Linked DNA regions of Homo sapiens: regions 1 and 3 are each linked to region 2. The links come from fine-mapping of genetic effects on gene expression. A gene starts in region 2. Each other region holds a variant in brackets. All regions are shown on one strand. Distances are between the middles of the regions. Region 1 has its middle 85 kb from the start of SNORA48B. Region 2 holds the start of PRKX (protein kinase cAMP-dependent X-linked catalytic subunit). Region 3 overlaps PRKX (protein kinase cAMP-dependent X-linked catalytic subunit).

What was found. PIP is the estimated chance that this variant, and not a neighbour inherited with it, causes the effect.
Region 1: its variant is the best candidate, but not a certain one, in a credible set for the expression of PRKX in esophagus muscle (GTEx, PIP 0.87).
Region 3: its variant is the best candidate, but not a certain one, in a credible set for the expression of PRKX in tibial nerve (GTEx, PIP 0.72).

Annotation. Positions count from the first base shown.
Region 1 is chrX:3,445,020-3,449,246 of GRCh38, forward strand. No RefSeq gene overlaps it. Among named protein-coding and RNA genes, the nearest start is that of SNORA48B, 85 kb to the right of the region's middle. The variant C/T (reference allele first, on the strand shown) is at 1,960.
Region 2 is chrX:3,711,520-3,715,746 of GRCh38, forward strand. PRKX (protein kinase cAMP-dependent X-linked catalytic subunit) reads right to left here and starts at 2,130. Exons shown (of 9, transcript NM_005044.5): 1 at 1,569-2,130. The coding sequence starts at 1,734. RefSeq lists enhancers at 224-353, 754-1,063, 3,395-4,042 and silencers at 1,234-1,513, 1,554-1,683, 1,704-2,433.
Region 3 is chrX:3,612,857-3,617,083 of GRCh38, forward strand. PRKX (protein kinase cAMP-dependent X-linked catalytic subunit) reads right to left here. Exons shown (of 9, transcript NM_005044.5): 7 at 2,959-3,036. Among named protein-coding and RNA genes, the nearest start is that of PRKX-AS1, 45 kb to the right of the region's middle. The variant T/G (reference allele first, on the strand shown) is at 1,978.

The DNA.
Region 1 (4,227 bases), 270 kb before region 2:
ACATATATACACACAAATGCATGCATACATAAAATCATACAGAAACTCGTGCATACATATGCCTGCATGAATGTACACCCATGCACTCATACATGGGAACACATGTGCATATACAAACACACATACATAATACACTCATGCAGAAATGCATGCATTTGTGCATCTACACATACAAACATGAACACACAGAAATACATGTGCGTACACAAGTTCATACAGAACATACGCATACAGACACATAAACATACAGAGTCTCAAGGGGAGTCACCCAGGTCAGGGCCAGATGGGGGACATAGCTGAGACTCAAAGGGTCCATATGGGTGGCAATGGAGCCCTGATCAGGCCAAAACCCCAGGTACACAGGCTGCAGGCTCCAGCCCCAGTGCCAGCAGCATGCAGGTGGATGAAGCCAGACAAGGCTCAAGCAGCAGCACAGCTATTCTTCTGCTGAGCCTCCCTTAACTCAAGGCCTTCTCTCCATGGCTAGGATGTAGTTTGCTCCCCACATTTCACTTCCAGACCTCAGCTTGAAGAAGCTCTTGGTGATGATGGCTGACGGCAAGACATGAAGAACAGGCCATGCATTTCCCCAGAAGGAACCATGAACCTATGGACACACCAAGAGGGTCTCTGCTTTGCACTGAATTTACTCCACCCCATTCTTCCAGCTTAGTGGGAGATTTGCAGCCCTTCAGATTAGCGAACAGATACTAAGTGTGCACATTTTGCAGTTTGCATGCCTAAAAGTGAGTTCAGTAACCTTTGACACCCAATCCATCAGGGTGGTCCAGGAAGGACAGTTGTGGTCCAGGAAGGACAGCTAATGTTAACAGTGACAAACGATGACCGCCAAGGGCTCTATCAAATTGCATTTGCAAATTTGGCTTTTATCTCACTACCATAACCATGCACCACTGTAACCATCTGTGTCGATTCAGCACTTTTTCTATTTTAATTTTTATTGAGCTCTGACTAGGTGGGAATACTAAACTAGCCCATATGCCCACCTGGAAAAGAGCCCAGTGCTGGCAAAAGAGTAAGCTTATTTGTAGGACTGCATTCTACATTTCATCCATGTGCAAAAAAAAAAAAAAAAAAAAAAAAACTGAAAACATAAAACTCGAGAAGGACCACCTGATACAGGTGATTATTTTCTTTTTTTTTTCTTTTTACTTTTGGGAAATATTTCACCAAACCATTTATTAGGCTAATTAATGGAAGTGGGGAGCCCTACCTTCAACACACAGAATACTGGCTGTTGGATATGTCCATCTGTTCAAGTCTCAATGTTTCTTTCCCTTCCCCCCAAATCCATATGACAAAGTTCTAACTGCCAGTGTGGGTGTATTTGGAATAATGTCTGTTAAAAGAAAAACCTTAGACAAATTAAATTTAACAGAGGTTAATTGAGCAAAGAATGATTCCCAAATCAGGCAGCCCCCCAAAACCAGAATAGGTTCAATCTCTGGCTTTGCTGCATGGTCAAAGATTTATGGACAGAAAAATGAAAGTGAGGTACAGAAACAGCTGGATTGGTTACAGCTTGGCATTTACCTTATTTGAACACAATTTGTACCATTGGCCACCTTTGACTGGTCAAAACTTGGTGGTTGGCACAGGAGTGGATTCCAGTCCATTTGCATGTTTGCACATCCAGTTAGGTTACAGTGCACTGTGTGCAGAGAAGCTTTGAGGTTGAACTTAAAATATGTGAGGAGGCAGCTTTAGGCTAAACTTAATTTAACAAGATGTAATTAAGATTCAATGATATTATGGTTTGGATGTGTCCCCACCTGAATCTCATCTTGAACTGTAGCTCCCATAATCCCCACGTCATGGGAGGGACCGAGTAGGAGGTAATTGAATCATAAAGGTGGGTCTTTCCCATGCTGTTCTTGTGGTAGTGAATAAGTCTCACCAGATCTGATGGTTTTGTAAAGAGGCGTTCCCCTGCGCATG[C/T]TCTCTTGGCTGCTGCCATGTAAGACAGGACTTTGCTCCTCCTTGGCTTCTGCCATGATTGTGAGGCCTCCCCAGCCATGTGGAACTGTGAGTCCATTAAACTTCTTTTTCTTTATAAATTACCCAGTCTTGGGTATGTCTTTATTAGCAGCCTGAGAACAAACTAATACCAATGTCATAAGGATGGAGACCTGATCCGGTAGGATTAGTGTCCTTATAAGAAGACACTCTGGGGAGTTCACTCTCTCTCTCTCTGTCTCAATCTCTCTCTATATATATGTTTCTCTCCTTCCTTCCCTCCCTCCCTCCCTCACTCTGTCCATCTCACCCTCTCCACCATGTGAGGAACCAGCAAGGAGGCACTGTCTATGAACAAAGAACCAAGTCCTCACCAGACATTGAATCTGCCATGCCTTGGTCTTGGACATCCAGCATTCAGAATTGTGAGCAATAAACATCTGTGGTCTAAGCCCCCAAGGCTATCACACTTTGTTGAGCATCCTGAGCTAAGAGACCATCTCTGGGTGTCTAACCCCTCACTTATCTATTGCTAGGTCAAATGGATCATACAATCTGCAATATGGTTGAGTGATAGGCCTCCAAAGGAAGCAACTGGACATCGGCCAGCTGAAGAGGTCAGCCAGAGGATCCTACTATGGTCGTTAAGGTACAGCTCCCACTTCCCATCACCAGGACCCAGAGGAAGCACATGGGTACATGTGTAGGCAGCGTTTTAATTCTTCAGCATTTATTTTTGCCAAGATGGCAGAAGGGACACGGGAAACAATTTGTTCCTCACTGATTTCTTCTGCATAGGCTCTGGGTTGAGTAATGCTCCCTGAGTGTGTACACCTGTGTGGGCCCAGCCAGCCCTGCTACTGGTGGCAGTGTGGCCTCGTAGGGGAAGGGCTCGTGCTTTGCTGACAGGGTGGGGAACTTTCTGGTAAAATGCTCCTGGAATTGACATTTGACAGATTAACTGTGCTGGAAGACAGAGTCATAAACAGAGGGTTCTGGGGAACCACTGAGAGCCAGAACCTCATGGTGGACATCTGTCATTTATCTATGTATCATCTATTTATCTATCTATCTATCTATCTATCTATCTATCTATCTATCTATCTATCATCTATCACCCACCCATCTATCCATCTATATCTATCTATTCATCTATCTATCCATCATCTGTCTATCCATCATCTATTTCTCTATGTATTTATCATCTGTCACCTATCTATCCACGTCTCTATCATCTATCACCCATCTATTTATCTATCCATTATCTATCTATCATCTATCTATCTATATAAAATCTATTACCTATCTATCTATTCATCTATCATCTATCTATTTATCTATCCATCATCTCTCTCTCTCTAACTATTCCTACTATGGAAATGTGCTTCAGTGTGTACTCAATCAGAGCTTCCCCATGCACAGATTTCATTTGGGTTCAGCACTCTGAGGGGTACATTGTGAGTGATTTCAAAGGATTCGAGGTCAATCCTGGATATTCCCAGGTATAAGGAAAGGAATGTGGAAACTCAAGCTCTTATCCCTGCTTTGTTTAGGCCAGACGCTAAATAGCCAATTACACAGAGGTGTGTCTTGGGCTCTCTTTGAAACTCCAGGAACAGTCGTGTAGGCTCACATTCTCTTTGCCATCTGGCCATTTGTATGAATCCAGTTGATGATAACGCAGCACATCTAATAAGCAGGTACCTCCATAAATTTCCTACCATTGATGCTACTGCATGGGCTGAAATATGTCATTCAGGAGCAAGAGTGAGGCAAACAATGGCCTTCCCAGTGCGTGCAGGAAATAAGAGCTTCCTGTCAAGGAAGAGACGAGTCTGTTATTTAGCTTAAGCAGATTTCCATGTATCAGACAAACAACTATATTTAAACCAATGCATTTGGGGAAAAATATATACTGGAATATATAGTTCAGCATTGCAAAGAAGCAATGCCTGAATTGTTGTGAGTTTTGGTATACGTCCACCAAATATCCTCTCCCTAACAATGGTGGGAAGGAACCACACCTTTAGAACTCTCTGGGACCCAGGCCACAGGAACGACATCTAAATAAAATTGCTTTATACTCCTCTGATTGGGGAGAGTAGAAATTATGCTTTTTGCTCTCTGGGAAATTGCTAGGTATGCTTGCGATTCAGGAAAGTTCTTACCTCACTCATAGTTAGGTTGAAGCAGAGGTGTCGGAAAGACAAGAGGAGTGAATGTGATTTGAGGCTTTTAAGAATCAGTATC
Region 2 (4,227 bases):
TCCCAAGGGACCCATGTGGGTGCCCCAAAGAATGACAAACGCTGGTGCTGAGTGCCAAGGAACGGCTGGACCTCATCAATTTTCCATTGTCGAGTTGTATTTCCACCTACTGTGGCGGCTGCGCCAGTCAGGGTTCCTGCCCCACCCTTCTTCCGCGCAAAACACACCCAGCTCTAAGATTAGACCAGGACAGCTTTCCGGGGGGACCAAGACAAGGGGGAAGGCAGAGAGAGAGGAGGGAGGGAGACAGAAAAACCAAGACCGGAAGGGGACAGGGAGAGAGACACCAAGAGACAGAGGAGGAGAAATGCAGAGAGACTTGAACAGAGACAGAAAGAGGGAGAGAGAAGAGAAACAGAGAAAAGAGAGAGAGAATGAGATAAAGAGGAGGAGGGAGGGAGAGGAGAAAGAGAGAGGGCCTCCTCCCACTCTGTCCTTCCAAATTCAGGCTTTCCTCGTGGGCCCTTCCTCAAGGTCTAAGTGGCAAAGAGGTCACTGAAGGAAGCTAAGTCCCCTCTTCCTCAGCGGTTCTAAAGGCCCCACTGGCTATGCCCGCTGGTCTTCCTAAGTCATAAGCTATGGCCTCGAGCCCTTGGGCTTCCCAGCCCAGCTTCCTCCTTTCCAAAATGAGGACAAACAGGAGTTAGAGGGCCTGAGAGCCGACGCCTCACCAACACACCCAGGACAGCCCCCTCTACTCTCCCATTTATTTTCTTGACAGCCAACACCCCACTTAGCCATACGGAGTCCCTAAGTGGCACAGGCGGGCCGATGACAACTGTTTAAATCCAGCGCCCACGTTCAGTTGGGATATTCTGACCCACTCAGGGCTGCTCCATAAAGCAGCGCGTGTCCGGATGCAAGAGCACCGAGAACTCGAAACCTCTCTGTCAAGCTGCCCATTCGGGGTTAAGTTCAAAGACAGAGGACAAAGGAAACGGATAAAGCGTCCGATACAAGAATTACCCATTTCAGAGGCACAAGACGAAGAGCACAGGCGGTGTCAGGACATGTTAGGATCCGTCCCCAGCGCTGCCGTCCTCGTCCCCACAGCGCCCCGGGACACCTGTCCCCCACAGCCCAGCTGCTCCTGCAGCCCCTGGAGAAATCTGTACATTCCCTGCCTCTGGGCACACAGGGAGGCTGGCCTAGGGGAGGCCTGCAGGGGTCTTCGCACCCCGCGCCAGTGTCCCTGGGGCCGCTGCCAGGGAGGGAGCACGAGGTCCCCCAGGCGAGGTGACCCGCAGGAGGTTTTGTGACGTCGGACGGCCCAGGCCCCAGAGTGCTGTGTGTGCTGGGGGTGGAGGGTGGTCTCCGAGAGGAGCCGTCGGCATTTCAGGTTAGGCACCCGGCCGGTCGGGGGTACTTGCCTGGGCTGGGGGGCTGGGGAGTGCGCTCCACCCGGGAAGACCCGGGGCGCAGGTGCAGCCCCGCACGGGGACTCCGAGCCGAAGTAGCGGGTCAGGGCCCTCCCCAGGAGGTCGGCACCCAGGGCCCTTTGTCCTACTACAACGTCCCGGCCACGCCGCGCGCCCCTGTGGGCCGAGTCCCCGCCCGCACTCACTCACCCACGGTGGCCAGCGTGTCAAAGTCCTGCAGGCTGTACACAGGCGGCTCCGGCGACAGCGCCTCAGGGCTGGGGCAGAGCGCGGGCGCCCCGTCGGGGGTCTCCTCCGCCACCTTGCGGGAGTCGCTCTCCGCCGCGGCCGCCTGGGCCAGCCCGGGCGCCTCCATGGGGACGCACTCAGGTCCGGGGCACCGGGCCAGGCCGGAGCGCTCGGGGAGCCGGGCTTCCCGGGACGCAGCCTCGGAGGGCGGCGCGGCGGCGGCATCAACAGAGGCTCCCCATGCGCGCTCTCGCCTCCTGGTGCGCGGTCCGGCGCGGCTGACGGAGCGACGGGGACAATGGCTGGGCGGCGCTCACGGCACAAGCAGCAACGGCCCCGAGTGGGAGCAGCCGCCGGCCTCGGGGGGCGGGCACCGAGTGCGGGACGACTGCGGGGAAGGCGGGGGCCGCGGCCCGGGCTGGGGGGGGCGAGGCGGGGGCCCTGCGCATTCCGGGTCTCGCGCCCGCCGCCTCCTCCAGCTCGGTAGCCGCGTGCGCGCTGTTGGGGCGGGCGGAAGCCGCCTGGGCGTGACCGCGCCTCTCCCCGCCCTAACCCGGCCGCGGGGCTGGGGGCGTCGCCTTCGCGCGCGCTCCGCCCCCGCCCCGACCCAGCCCAGGAGCCGGAGACCCGGGCGTGCGGCGCTGGGGAGGTGCCCACGCCCCCTCCGCGCCCGGGGCACCCCTGGGGTGGGACCCAGGCTGACTTCTCCTCGGGGACGCACTGGCGGGCCACCCGCGTCGCTGCACCCAAGCCCGGAAGATGGGGAGGCGAGGGGGCCCGGGGACAGGGAGGGCGTAGCTCAGCAGAAGTGAAGTTCAAAACTAAAAAGTGAAACTGGCGTTTGGTGAAGAGAGGGGCTCGGATTAGCCCGGCTAATTTTTGTATTTTCTCAGTAGAGACAGGGTTTCACCATGTTGGCCAGGCTGGTCTGGAACTCCTGAGCACAAGTGAACCGCCTGCCTCGTTCTCCCAAAGTGCTGGGACTACAGGTATAAGCCACCACGCCCAGCCTCTGATTGGCTTTAAGTCATAGAAAATAGGATTGCTCAGCTGGCAATCTGCATACAGATCCCCTCTGCCCTCCCCCCAAAAAGTTCAGTACTCCTGCGGGTGCTTGTTTGGGACCTGAGAGAATTTGGAATGAGGGCGGATCCCCAAGAGGGGCTGCCGGGTCTTCGGGATGAGTTCAGCGTCCTGGTTTTGCTGTAGGACTCTGGTGATTCTAGATTTCTACTTGGAAGGGGCGGGGAAGGGCGGGCTCGACCCTGTGCGTTTCTTTGCAGCTTCCTGTGGATCTAGAATTCTTTACAAATAAACATTCCTTTAAAAAACTAGGGAAAGACAGATTTGAGAGATCGCCCGACCAAATGTAGTGCGTGAAACTTGATTGGTCACTGTTTCAAACACCCCGGCGACAACCCTATAAAGAATTGTGCAGAGGCATTTCAATTTCAGAAACCCCAAAGATTTTTTTTTCCTGGCTTAAGTGTGGCTCAGGCAATAGTTGGACATACTTATATTTAAAACCCATATCCGTGTGGATTTGAAATGCAAATATAGCTAGATATTTGGTCACCCCTTTCCCCAGGGAAATGCAGACAGTGCTTAACTTGCGGGCCTGGCACGGCCTGGACGCTGCGCCCCTGACCCGCGACCAGGGCGGCCCAGGCTGCCGGTTCGCCGACCACAGTTTGAGCAGCAAGGGGTCAAACTGCAAACGCCTTTGTTTTGAGGGATCTCAGCGATTCTGCGATTGGAGGGGGTCTCCAGTCCCTCAGTCCGCAGGTCAGGGGGGCTTTCCGAGAGCCAAAGCGGCCTCTAAGTCAGAACGGACACATTTTTAGGGGGACCAGGCCGAGCCATCCTTCCACAGCTAACGGGGAGGGGGAGTCAGGAAGTCTGAACCTGGCTCAGGCTTTGGATTTCTGGCCCCTGGCTGCCAGCCTCGCCCAGCCTCCACCTGCATTTTGTGGGTGGCATTTCCCCCCGGGGGTGACACCCGCTCCCTATGCTCTGCAAAATCCTGAGCTGGAATGCAAAACATATGCGACACCAGCAGGCCCCTGCCATCCCCTGAGCCTGGTTAGGACAGGTCACGGCCCTGCCAAGCTTCACCAGCAAGCCGCGCAATCCCTTGATCCTGGTTAGGACAGGAAACGGCCCTGCCAAGCCCTGCCTGGCCGAGGGGTTCAGGGCCAGCAAGGAACGCGCACTCAGGAAAAGTTCGTGTCTCCCCGCGGAACGCGCGCCCTCTCCACTAGGGCCTGACCTTGGAAATGCAAGGCTGCGGCCTCATAAAGTCCTTTTAATCAAGGCCCGGGTTTCACACCCAATTAAGCAGATGTCCTTGCCTGCAAATTGCACGCAGGAAGAAGAACGTGGCACAGATTTGCAGCGTTAAACTCTGCTTGAGCTGCTGGTTGGTCTGATTCCACCGAACCCACCCTGAACTTGACCGCATAGCTACCTCTTCTTATAAATAGACCCTGCACGTTTCACAACACCTTGCTTGACAAAACAGCTTTCATCTGGAAGGATCATAAAAATCCTTGAGAAACCACAGCCTATTACTTGAGAGACAAAAAAGGAAAATCCCTGTGAGTTAGGCATGGAAGGGTCA
Region 3 (4,227 bases), 99 kb before region 2:
AAAATGAGGAAGCTGGCTAGGCGCAGTGGCTCATGCCTGTAATCCCAGCACTTTGGGAGGCCAAGGTGGGAGGATCATCTGAGGTCAGGAGTTCGAGAACAGCCTGGCCCATGGAGAAACCCTGTCTCTACCGAAAAGACAAAAATTAGCCGGGCATAGTGGTGGGTGCCTGTAATCCCAGCTACTTGGGAGGCTGAGGCAGGAGAATCGCTTGAACCTGGGAGGCGGAGGTTGCAGTGAGCCGAGATCGCACCACTGAACTCCAGCCTGGGCAACGGAGCAAGACTTCGTCTCAAAAAAAAAAAAAAAAAAAAAAAAAAAAAAAAAAAAATGAGGAAGCTAGCCAGGTATGTAGACAGGTCTCCAGATTATATAGTCAAGTGCAAAAAGCAAGACTATAATAATGTACATACTACGCTACTCTAGATTTGTATAAATGAGTGGCAAAAATAAGAATGCATGTATCCATGTGGGTTTTTATTAGCACAAAGAAACTCTAGAAGGATACACAGAAAAACAATAAAAGGTGATTACCTACAGGTGGCTTGGAGGGGGTAAGAGGGAGACTTGGCAATATATCTGTTTTAATATTGACTTGGTTTTTGACCAATGTGGATAGATAAAACGTATTCAAATTGTTTTTTTAATGCAATTTAATACAATAAAGTATTTGAAAAGGTAAAACTTTGAACAAAATGATGCATCAGCCCAGGCCCAGTGGCTGACACCTGTAATCCCAGCACTTTGGGAGGCCGAGGAGAGTGGATCATTTGAGGTCATGAGTTCGAAACCAGCCTGGCCAACATAGTGAAACCCCATCTCTTCTAAAAACACACAAAAAAATTAGCTGGATGTGGTGGCGCACACCTGTAATCCCAGCTACTTGGGAGGCTGAGGCAGAAGAATCACTTGAATCCAAGAGGTGGAGGTTGCAGTGAGTTGAGATCACTCCACTGCACTACACCCCGAGCCTGAGCGACAAAGTGAGACTCCATCTCAAAAAAAAAAAAAAAAAAAAAAAAAAGAAGCGTATCATCCCAGGCTCCAGCCCCAGAAACTCTGGTCTGAGCTGAGGACTAGGAATAAGCATTTCTAAGCATTCTCCATTCTTTTAACTCTGAAGTGCAAAGGTGAAAACACTACCATTGACCACTCCCATCAGTAACATATGCAGTTCAGAGTGTTCACAAAAGCCAAGATATGGAATCAACCTAAGTGTCCACCAATGGATGAAAGGATAAAGAAAGTGTGGTCCATACACACAATGAAAAACTATCCGGCCATAAAATGGAATGAAATCCTGTCATTTATAGCACCACGAATGGAATGGGAGACCATCATGTTAAGTAAACTAAGCCAGGCCGGGTGCAGCGGCTCATGCCTGTAATCCCAGCACTTCTTTGGGAGACTGAGGCTGGTGGATCACTTGAGGTTAGGAGATTGAGACCAGCCTGGCCAACATGGTGAAACCCCGTCTCTAGTAAAAATACAAAAATTAGCTGGGCGTCTGTAATCCCAGCTACTCAGGGGGCTGAGGCATGAGAACTGCTTGAAGCCAGGAGGTGGAGGCTGCAGTGAGCAAGATCGTGCCACTGCACTCCAGCCTGGGCAACAGAGCAAGACGCTGTCTCAAAAAATAAATAATAAATAATAAACTAAGCCAGACGCAGAATGAGAAACACAGCGTGTTCCCACTCATATGTGGGAGCTAAAAAAATGGATGTCATGAAGGTTGAGAGTAGAATGATAGTTACCAGAGGGTGGGAAGTGTGTATAGCTAGGGGATGAAGGGGAGATGAAGAAATATTGCATAAACATAATGTTAGATAAAAGGAATAAGTTCCAGTGTTTGACAGCATAGTTGGGTGGGCAGAGTTAACAATATATTGTATATTTCAGAATAGCTAGATTTGCAATATTCCCAACCCATAAAAATGATAAATGTTTGAGCTGATGGATACCCTGGTTACCCTCAGT[T/G]GATCATTACACATTCTATGCGTGTGTCAAAATATAACATGTACCCCCATAAATATGTACCTGTGATAGTTACACTGCTTAGCAGCTGTGTAACCTTCCACACATTGCTTAACTTCTCTGAGCACAGTCTCCTCATTTATAAAATGGACAAGTATTATACATTGAAAAAAATGCCAGATTTTTTTTTTTTTTTTTTTTTTTTTGAGACAGGGTCTGGCTCTGTCGCCCAGGCTGGAGTGCAGTGGCATAATCTTGGCTCACTGCAACCTCCGCCTCCTGGTATCAAGCAATTCTTGTGCCTCAGCCTCCCAAGTAGCTGGTACCACAAGCATATGCCACCACGCCTGGCTAATTTTGGTATTTTCTGTAGAGGCGGGATTTCACCATATTGCCCAGGCTAGTCTCAAACTCGTGGGTTCCAGTGATCTGCCTGAGTTGGCCTCTCAAAGTACTGGAATTATAGGCGTGAGCCACAGCACCCAGCCAAAAAGCCAGATGTTTAAAAATAGGCAGTTTGGCCAGAAACGTTCCAAAGAATATTCTCCATGTAATACACCACCATCACTGAACGATGACCATGGTGCTAGACGCTTGCTTATCTCTGTAATCCTGTTGACCGCTTTCCACTAAAGAGGAGGGAGTAGGGTTTAGCAGTCACAGAGCTAGTCAGGAATCAGGCCAGGTCTCCTAAAATCTGCTTCAAAATCTGGGATAAGTGTCCATCCAGGGATGAATGGACAAAGAACATGTGGTATATGACTGGGTGTGGTGGCTCCTGCCTTTGTGGGAGCTAGGTAGATGGTTAGCACTAAGACACTCAAAGAGTGGGGAACTTGGCTTATGAACAGTTTTAGACAAATAGTTGTATTATATAAATTAATCACATGTCAGCCATCAATAAAGAAGTCCCAGGATTCAGAGGCAGTCCCTGCTAATGGAAGAGCTCGGGCATACTGAGTCACCCACTGATATGTGTTGTACCTTCAGTTTTCTCTGCGGAACAGCTTCCCAGTCCACGGAGCGGAACCACCGATGATGCTTCACATCATTCGCCCCGTTCTTCAAAAGAAACAACACATGTCGTCAGTGTACAGAATTTTGACAGGGCAGGAAAGAAAAATACCCCAAAGAATCTCTACATTATTTTAGTATTGAAACAAACAGACCAAGTTTGCTGCATTTTGGAGAACTGTGCCTGGAGGGTGAGCTGCCAGGAAAACCTGCAAGCAAAGCTGTTAGTGTTTTGTTTGCCCTTTTTTGCCGCAGAAACAAATCCAGTCATTCTGCTCCTGTGCAATGCATTTGCATTCCGGACCAAAGACGAAAAAGGTAAATACGATTCCATCTCTCGACATAAAATTGGACAGCCAGTAGTTTCTCAGTTTGTCTCCTGTTTTCATCTTGGCAAACTTACTCAGTATTTTACAGACATAGAAACTAGGGTTCAAGGAATGATGTTAATTTGCTCCGTAGGACCCAGCAAGTAAATAACAAGACTGGGAACTCAAACCAAGGATGTCCAGTTTAAGAGACCTTAGGAACGACATTGCACGGCCTGGCAATTAACAAGGTGCGTTCAAGTCGGCCTGCTTCATGCTCAAGGGTAGCACCAGGCATCGCTGGCTCACACTGTGGCCATCACGACCTCTGAAATCCCTCCCAAGTGCTCATCCGTAAACCTCACTCTGCTTCCTTTTCTTATACTTGTAGTGATGTCGTTATCAATTAAATGTGGGACAGCAGAAGAAATAAACGTAGGTTCCATGAAACAGAAGCCAGTACATCTGAATTTAACGCGTCTATCAGTTAGCATTACTGTAGTTTCAAATTTCTTATCCTTAAAGAGGAATACGTCCACAACCATATCTTCAAAAGGAAACAGTAATGTGAATTTTTTCTATTGTTTTCCCATCCAGTTGTTTTGACAACTTTTTCTTTTCTTATTGCAAAACAGGTATTTTTGATCTATAGCTAAGTCAGGCAACAAACAATAGCTGTTGAGTTTTCCCTTCAGCAATGTTGTGAATAAGAATAAATAAGAGTGCTGTGAATAAGAGAATAAAATAAATTTTATCCATCAGATAAAATTCTAATTTGGATACTAAAGGATGTGTGTGTCTGTATATACTCACATGCATACATAGTAATATATACACACACACATACATATATACACACATAGATTGATATATACATACTTATACACATACACACATTAATATATACACATACTTATAGACATACACACGT